2 separate regions of the Homo sapiens genome follow, and region 1 is reported to be linked to region 2. Evidence: microRNA targets listed by miRTarBase, many of them from high-throughput screens and not tested one by one. Region 2 holds a microRNA gene; the other region holds the end of a gene's coding sequence.

What was found. Region 2 holds the annotated microRNA hsa-miR-494-3p (UGAAACAUACACGGGAAACCUC, at 3,027-3,048, shown strand). A microRNA usually pairs through its seed, bases 2 to 8, with sites in the 3' UTR of a target mRNA and lowers its output. Matches are read on the target gene's strand: a 7mer-m8 pairs with bases 2 to 8, a 7mer-A1 pairs with bases 2 to 7 and ends in A, and an 8mer does both.
Region 1: miRTarBase lists TMLHE as a target of hsa-miR-494-3p. Seed matches in the 3' UTR shown: 7mer-m8 at 1,464-1,470.

Annotation. Positions count from the first base shown.
Region 1 is chrX:155,487,756-155,491,755 of GRCh38, forward strand. It overlaps TMLHE (trimethyllysine hydroxylase, epsilon), which reads right to left. Exons shown (of 8, transcript NM_018196.4): 8 at 1,256-3,911. The coding sequence ends at 3,780. TMLHE-AS1 (TMLHE antisense RNA 1) reads left to right here. Exons shown (of 4, transcript NR_039991.1): 3 at 1,537-1,634. Among named protein-coding and RNA genes, the nearest start is that of TMLHE-AS1, 23 kb to the left of the region's middle.
Region 2 is chr14:101,026,655-101,031,180 of GRCh38, forward strand. It overlaps MIR494 (microRNA 494), which reads left to right and starts at 2,980; the gene lies at 2,980-3,060. It overlaps LOC124903407 (mucin-2-like), which reads left to right. Exons shown (of 5, transcript XM_047432049.1): 5 at 1-4,526. It overlaps MIR329-2 (microRNA 329-2), which reads left to right and starts at 446; the gene lies at 446-529. MIR1193 (microRNA 1193) reads left to right here and starts at 3,398; the gene lies at 3,398-3,475. It also overlaps MIR329-1.

The sequences.
Region 1 (4,000 bases), not on the chromosome of region 2:
GGCGCTGTATTTACTCGCCCCTTTCCTTCCCCTCCATGAGAACCACTCACCCTAGCTGCTTCTAGTCAGCCATCTTGGCCACTCCCTCCCCGCCCCCCACCTTTTTTTTTTAAATGCTTGAAAACTATTTGCAAAAGAAACCTAGAGATTCTCATGGTTCTTTTAAGATCTTGTTGGATGGACTGTGAAAGTGGGATTATTGTCTATGAATGGTCAGCTAGACTGTGTGTGTGTGGAAAGGGTGAGGGAATTAACATTTATTGAGCAAAAGGGCATGCTAGTTAAAATCATTGTCTCTGGGGACAGATTTTTCTGGGTTTTAATCCAAACTCTGACACGTATTAGCCGTGTGACCTCTATTTTTCATTTGTAAAATGGAGATGGGATTGTTGCGGGGATTAAAAGCACTTACAACAGTCCAGGATATAGAAAGCACTGTGTAAGAGCTGGCTGTCATATATTAGTCATCAGTCATCATACTTAATAATCACAAAATTGTTAGAAAATCCTGTGAGGTAGGTATTTTCCTTACCATACCCATATGAGAAAACTTAAGCAAGGAGAAGTCAAACAAAGTTACCAAAGTCACACAATTACGGAGTGACAGAGCCTTTAGACGCTGCCTAGTCCAAGGCTTTCATTTCACAGAAGAGAAAACTGAAGTTCAAAATAGGAGAGGGACATGCCTGAAGTCATTTAGTGAGCCAGTGACAGAACTGGGCCTAGAACTCAGCAGCAGGACTCTTCCTGTCAGTAGTTCTCAAACTTTGTCATGTGTTACAATCCTGCAGAGGACTTGCTAAAACAAACTGCTGGTACCCATGCCTAGAGTTTCTTACTTAGTAGGCGTGGGGTGGGCCTTGAAAATTTGCATTTCTAAGGAGTTCTCAAATGATGCCACTGCTGGTGGTCTGGGGACCCTACTTTGGGAACCACCACAACACACCATAATTCATACATCTTTTGTTCTTTTCATCATGGACTACACAGTGTGTGACCTACAAACACTTTCAAAGAAATGGGAACCGGTGATGAAAACCAAAGAAAATTACATATCTAGCAGCAAGAAGGTACGGTGACTGACCAACAGTCCTGGTTTGTGTGGGACTCTCCTACTTTTAAAATGGAAAGTCCTGTAGTTCTGGGCACAAGAGGATGGTTGGTCACTCTAGATGAAAGCAAACAAAAGTCAGTGTCAGCTAAATGCCAAACGAAAAAGGACATACATACAGAGAATGTGGTAACTTCTGGTGAATTTGTTTGAAAAGGACCCATTCATTTATTCTTCCAACACATCTGTATTATAAAACTACTATCCATAAGGCACTGTGTTAGGTGCTGTGTTCCTGACCCTACAGATCCCATTCCACCATAGCAAAAGGTAAAAGTGACTCTACAGTGAGCTTGGTAGACATAGACCCATGCTTATATACTCAGGGACACCTGGAAGAGATATAAAAACAGAAACATCTCACATAGGAAGTTTTCAATGCATCGTGATCAGGACTCAAATAATCCCCTTCTCTTTTTCTTCAGTGTACTAAAGGGAGCACATTGTTGAGAAGGACCGGTTGCAAATTTCCAAAAAGGAGAGTAAAATAATTAATGAGTCAAGGTCTCAGGAGAGACAGAAGGTAAGGGGAGTCCTTCAGTAAGTGGGGAAATTGATTTGTTTTGTGTCCTCATCTCTCCAGGGCCATGAGCATGTCCTTTGCTGGCCATAAGTCAATGCTGATGACCTCAGTTATAGTGTAATCTTCAAGGCTAATTTACGCAAAACTTCAGAAATGGTAAACATCCTCATGAAGACTAATGATGACATATTTTAGGAGTGCATAATAGTAGGTATAGAGAAAAAACTGCAGGGTAAAATGTTATTGCTGTTCTTATTGCTAAAGGGCATACTCCTTAAGAACCAAAGTTAATTATCAGTCCTTTGACCTAAGAGGAAAACAAATTTCAGGGACTCCCCTAAAGATTCCTATGTAGTACAAATAAAATGCCAAAATATTTTGGAACACATTTTGGAGCACTGGATAGGTCAATAAAATAATGTGTAAATTGCCAAATGTGATCTAGGAACTCCCTGCAAACATCAGATTAGGCTCTATTCTCTATCTGAATACTGACTTTGCTTTGCTTTGTAACTCCTATCTTCACTAATAATGCCTTTTCCCCCCTCTTGTGTGCATCCTAGCCTATATTCTCTTTCATCATTCTACAGTGGTCAATGTGGTTATTGTACAGCTTCACTTTCAATGAAAGCTGAGGGAAAAGAAGCCTCATACCCTGCCCCCCACCCGCCCCCGCCAATACGTAAAAGAAGCCATTTAAAAAATAAAAGCAGCAAGCTACTAAATTTGACTCATTCAAATCTTGGCAATTAGCATGTATAGTATGTTATGAGAGAGAGAGAGAGAAAATTAGCAGAAATGGAGGAAAACATATTACATCCTAAATACCACCAAATTGCCAAAATACACATTTGGGTAGTAATCTCCAGAGAACTCTCTGGAGGCACAGCATCTATCATGCTGATTTCCCTGAACAATATTACAGAATAGCCCTGTGTACTTTCTCTTGGGGGGGGAGGTGTAAAGAATTATCATATGGAACCTCACAAGTCTCTAAAACCTTTCTGCAATTATCCCTCATAGGATTACCACACTGATGAGTTTGTTCAACAGGCGCTGTTGTGACTTCCTAATTTAACTCCTATAGAGATGATTTGTGTGGAAGATAAAACACTATATTTGAACTCAATTCCCACCTTATCCCTGAGCTTATGCTACCAAGCAATTCTTACAATGTTTGGAGTTCTATTAGACTACAGAGAAGAATCTAGGGTTTCAGCTAAACCCTTTAATCCACAGGCCTAGGTAAAGGACTGTCTCAAGGTAGTCGCTAGCCCATGGGTTCTCAAAGTATGGTCTGAAGACCCCTGGAGGAGTCCCTGAGACCCTTTTCGTGGGTCTGCAGATTAAAAATTATTTTGTATAATAACACCAAGATGAGTTACATTCAATTAGGCATTTTTCTTTTGAAATTAAGCAGACTTTTGGAAACTAAGATGTGCATAGCCCTGTAGTAGGCTAAGTGGAAGTTACAAAGGCAGTAGTAGCTTTTTTTCCCCCTCTCGTTATCTCATGAGGATACAGAGGACTTTTCCAGAGGCTACATGACATATGGTTATGTCATCTCTCTCATAGCTGAGGGATGTGTGCTTCTGTGTTCTTCTTGAGCTTTAAATATTTCTCAGTCTTAATACCTAAAATAATTAGTATCAATAGATAGAACCCACACCCAAGAACTCCTTGGGGCCTTCAATAACTTTTAAGAGTGTTAAGGTGTCCTAAGACCAAACATTTTGCAAATTGTTGCTTTATCAGGATTTTTGTTATTTCTAGAATGCATTTCTTTCTAACTGATCTACTTGGGAAAAAAATCGTTACCTCATGGCAATTATTGCTTTCCTATCAATATGGAGATTATATTTCTGAAGGAGACTGACCAAAATTATATTAAAAGGTTTAAATCAAACAAGTGGATCCATGTTATAACATGAGGAAGAGAGCTGCCCCACTAGATGTCTGACATTAGATAACTCAGAGTCCCGCCTCTCCAACAAGTCTCCCTTACTAGAGAAACGGACAGATTCTGTTTTGTGGGATGGGATAAGGAGACAATCTGAAGTAGAGTTTGACACAATATTATTCTGCCCATATGAAATTCTGGTAGCCAGGGTGCCAGGTGTATTCATAATCCAGATGCTGTCAATTTTAAGCCTGAAGCCCCAAGAGGCGAGCAGTGTTTAATACATCATCTCTTGTTAAATAGCAGCCACACAGTTGGCGGTAGCCAGTGAAGCATTCCCTGCCATGTAGGACACGCCAGTTGTCTATAAATAGGACCTGTGAATGGGCCAAAAAAAAAAAAAAAAGAGAGAGAAAACACTGTCAGAAGAAGGACAGACCAAAGGAACCCTAAGTCAGAAGAGATC
Region 2 (4,526 bases):
CAACTCTTGGCTTCTTCCGGCAAATCAACTAACTAACGCTCAGTGTGCAATTCCATATTTAACAGGACTTCCAGCACTGAATGTCAAGTCTGGGGAAGAATCAGTGGTGTTCTTGTCAGTGTTAATCAGTGGTACCTGAAGAGAGGTTTTCTGGGTTTCTGTTTCTTTAATGAGGACGAAACACACCTGGTTAACCTCTTTTCCAGTATCAAATCCCATCTTGGAGGCCTTCTGGTCCAGACCTCAGCTTCAGGGAAGGGCGTTACTCTCAGCTCCAGTCCACTGGACAGAAATCTATGGTTAACCACGAAGCCTGTGCTGTATTATTTTGACTGATGTCATCTGTTCTACTAACCCCAGTGTCCAATCCGTATTTAACAGGACTTCCAGGACTGAATGTCAAGTTTGGGGAAGGAATCAGTGGTGTTCTTGTCAGTGTTACTTGGTGGTACCTGAAGAGAGGTTTTCTGGGTTTCTGTTTCTTTATTGAGGACGAAACACACCTGGTTAACCTCTTTTCCAGTATCAAATCCCATCTTGGAGGCCTTCTGGTCCAGACCTCAGCTTCAGGGAAGGGGTGCTGTGGACATAAATAAGGAGACACGAGCAAATGGCTGATCACTAAGCGTGCCCCATGTTTCTGAATTTTGCCACCGATTGCGCTAACCCTCAATGTCTTATCCCTTCTTAGGAGGACTTTTCAATGTGATGGCAGCCTGGGGGAAGACAGTGTCACCACGACAGTGTCACGGAACATGCAGGTGAGTTGTCTGTGGTTGCCTTCGTTGTGCTCCCAACGGATCGTGTGTGTAATTCAGGCTCTTTCGGCATCTGACCCTGCTGTAGGGGGATGCCTCGTCCTTGCCACACTCAGTGATGGGCTTGAATGAGCCCAGCCCACAGCAGGGGAATGCCAGCATGCCCTGGACAGATAGTGCAGGTGTCCTGCACGCCTGCCCCTAGCCTGCAGTTTATTCTGAAAGGATGTCCTGGATATAATGACACCTTAGGGAAGAAAAGCTGATTCTGAGGTCAAGAGGAGACCTTGGGGGCCCTGGAATTGGCCCAGGTTGAGACCTGTTTATTTCTCACAGGAATTGTGGAGTTGACTTCCTTTAAATCTGGAGGAATCCTTGATGTCATGCCAGCTTGAAGGGAGGGCATTGTCACCAGCCCTGATCCAGGGGAAGGGAGTGGATGGCCCACCACGGGGCATGTACCTCCCCAGGAACACACCTGCTCCACTGACCAGCACATCTGACCTACCCTCAGGGTTGTGTTTCTGCAGATGGTCCTTCTTTGGGGTGCTCAAGGAGAGGTTTCCTTTGGCATATCTGTTTCTTTTATATAAATCATTTCTGTGGACCACTCTTCAGTATCAAACACCAGTTTGGAAGGCTTCCGGATAAGACAGTTGTCAGGCCCAGGCCAGGGTGAGTGGGCCGAGATGGGTGCTTCCCCTGTTCTAAGCGTCCTGTCTGGCAGTAATGCTTGGTGCCCGATCCTTTCCAGGAGGACTTCCTGGAGGTGATGCCAGCCTCTGGGGAAGGAAAAGGCTCCCTGCCAGCTCTAAAGCCAAGGCACAGAAGTAGGTTTTGCTGGTGCTGCATTTGTTTTGATGGCACTTAGCTGTGACTGTGGGTCCTCGGCTCATCTGTGGCATTTGGGGATGGGACTGTGAGGGAGGAGGGCCTCAGGTTCTGGAGAAGGGCCAGGTATTTCCATGTCAACCCTGCTTTTTATAACCAGAGAGAACATATGAGGTAGCACCAATGACCTCCGCCACCAATCCTTCCTATTAGCTGATACCCAAACACCGTTCCTTCCAGCCGAAAAGAGCCCTCATAAAGAGAGGGCAGAGAGAGTGTGTCAAGGCCATGTGACAGCAGGCAGTATGCTGTTGCCTCCGGGGTATCCAGGGTAGGCGGCTGCTGGGTCCATGTAGATTGGGTGCTCTGCTGGCTACGGAGGGGTCAAAGGACAGGTGGCAAGGGTGCAGAGCCGCAGCCTGGCCCTGGGATTTTCTTCTCAGACCTCTGCTCCGGGGTCCACCTTCGGGGGAAAAGAGGGCACAATTTTACAACTTTGTAAGAGGAAACCTGAAGTTTTCTGACCCCTGATTCTCCCCAGCCCTGTCAGGATTGATCTAACTCTCTGTTGAGATGCAAAAGAGTCTGGAGATAACAGTACTCCCCCCACCATGAAAACAATTATTGTCAAAGGAGTTTTATAGCAAACAGAAAATCCGGCCCAGAATTGGCTAAAACATTTGGGGAGCTCACATCAGGAAATGAGATTCGTTTTTATTTCTTGATTCTGCTGAATTGGATTGAAGGCAGCAGAAGGCATTAAGTGGGATTTGACCTGGAGGAAGGTGGCCTGGCGGTGCTCCTGGCTTCCCCGACCCTCCCTCCCTAGCCGTGTGTAGCAGGCACTCACTTTGCTTACAGCTTCCTCGGTGCCATGTATCTGTTTTTGGAATCACACCTTGCCTGGAAGGCTGCTTGGACCCATGGCCAGTGCCACACAGGGGCCTGGGCACCGGCTAACTGCAGACCCAGCCACCTGCTTCTTGACCACAGAATTCGAGATTTACTCATGAGCTCTCTTGACGCACTGACTTTGGGATGCAAACCATTATGACTAGGGGCACTTCCCGTGGCCTGGACTTCCACAAGGAAACCCTGGTTCCACCGTCAGGAAAGCTCCAATACCTGGAAAGAGGTTGTACCTAAAGTGTTCTCTGTATTGGCGGAAAATGTTTCCCGGGCAACCTCTTTTCATTGTGAAGGCTTGAAGAGCTTTTGGCTGACTTCCCAAAAGCAACCTGGGACACGCAAATAGAAGCCATCTGACGTCTGGTCTACCCAGTGCCATGTAGATTCGGGGAATCTTCCTGGAGGTGACACCAACATCGGCGAAGATTCGGCAGTTCTGTTTTGATTTTTTTTGTTTGTTTTTTGATCAGTGCTAATCTTCGATACTCGAAGGAGAGGTTGTCCGTGTTGTCTTCTCTTTATTTATGATGAAACATACACGGGAAACCTCTTTTTTAGTATCAAATCCCACCCTGGAGGCACTTCCTGTTCCTGATGCAGCCTTCAGGGAGGGACGTTGCCGGCTCCACTCTCGGTAGGCGCAAGCGAGGCTGACAGCGTGCCATGCGTCGTGGGGGTGTGGCTCTCAGGCCCCAGCCATGGAGGGCCCCTAGGAGGGGAAGCTGAGTTTGGAGAAGGGCCTGTGCTTCTGTGGTTGAAGGAGGTTGCTCATTGTGGTGTTTGTCTATTTGTTGATTCACGGTGGGTGGCGCCTCTTCAGTGTGAGATCTTGCTTGGATGGCCTTCTGGACACGCTAGCAACGTCATTGAAGGGACGATGGTGCCATCTGCTCTCCAGGGTAGCTGAGGGGATGGTAGACCGGTGACGTGCACTTCATTTACGATGTAGGTCACCCGTTTGACTATCCACCAGCGCCCGGTCCATCTGTGGGATGACATCTTGGTGCACATGGCAACTTCGGAGAAGATGTGGGAGGACGTGGGGCCCGTGGGACTCTGCAGGATTTTAGGAGGGGTTTCCCTTCGGGGCCCCCTCCTCCTACCTCGTTAAAATCAATATAAGCAATCATCAGTGAATAATCTCTCTTTTGGTTTCAAATCCTGCCCAGGAGGGCTGATAGTCTGGCCACAGACAATGCCAGGATTGCAGAGGCCTGGGCTTCAGTGCCCCATCAGGGAAAGTCCCACCCCACACCACATGCTGACTGCAGGAGGTGTGTGTGTGACCTGGTACAGGGGTGTGGTTTATCCTCGGAAGGGTTTGAGGAGTGTTGTGTGTGTGCAGGACAGGGCAGGCGTTGGGACAGCTGTGGTAGTGAGGGCCACTTTATTCTGTGCTACATGAAGAGAGGCTGTCTGACAAAGCTTGCCATGTGTTTGATGAATGCTACGTGGCCCATCTCTTTTCCATAGGAGGACTTCCTGGACATGAAGCTAGATTCCGGCAGGGCCACTGGTGTCAGCAGCACTCCTGGTGAGTCGTGGATGGGGGACTGAGGAGCTGGCAGCGTGATTGAGATGAGCCCTTCCTGTGTTGGGACCACTCAGAATCCAGCCGCTTCGTGGGCAGCGTTCAGTCCATGCTTGGGGAAAGGGCTTTGTTGCCGTTGCTCATCTCTGTCTGTTGTTCAGCTCTGCTTGCCTTACGAGGCCCCAGATGCCCTGGATGCCCTCAGTGTCAGACTGCGGAAGATGTGTCCCGGCTGTGACACGCGCTTCAGGGGAGGGCTGTTGGCGTCAGGTCCATGGAGAGGTATGGGAGTGGACATCTTGTCTGAGAGCAGACATTCTATTTCGGGTGTGTGTCTTGGTCCGTTCATCCTCAGTCTCCCTCCCATACCTAGGATGGCTTGTGGAGAGAAGGCCTGCCCTGAGGGCTGAAGTTGGGACCCACAGCTCTCACCCCGGCCTTGGTATGCTCCCATGGCTACGGCAGAGGCACAAGAAAGTAATTAGAAACGCAGAAAC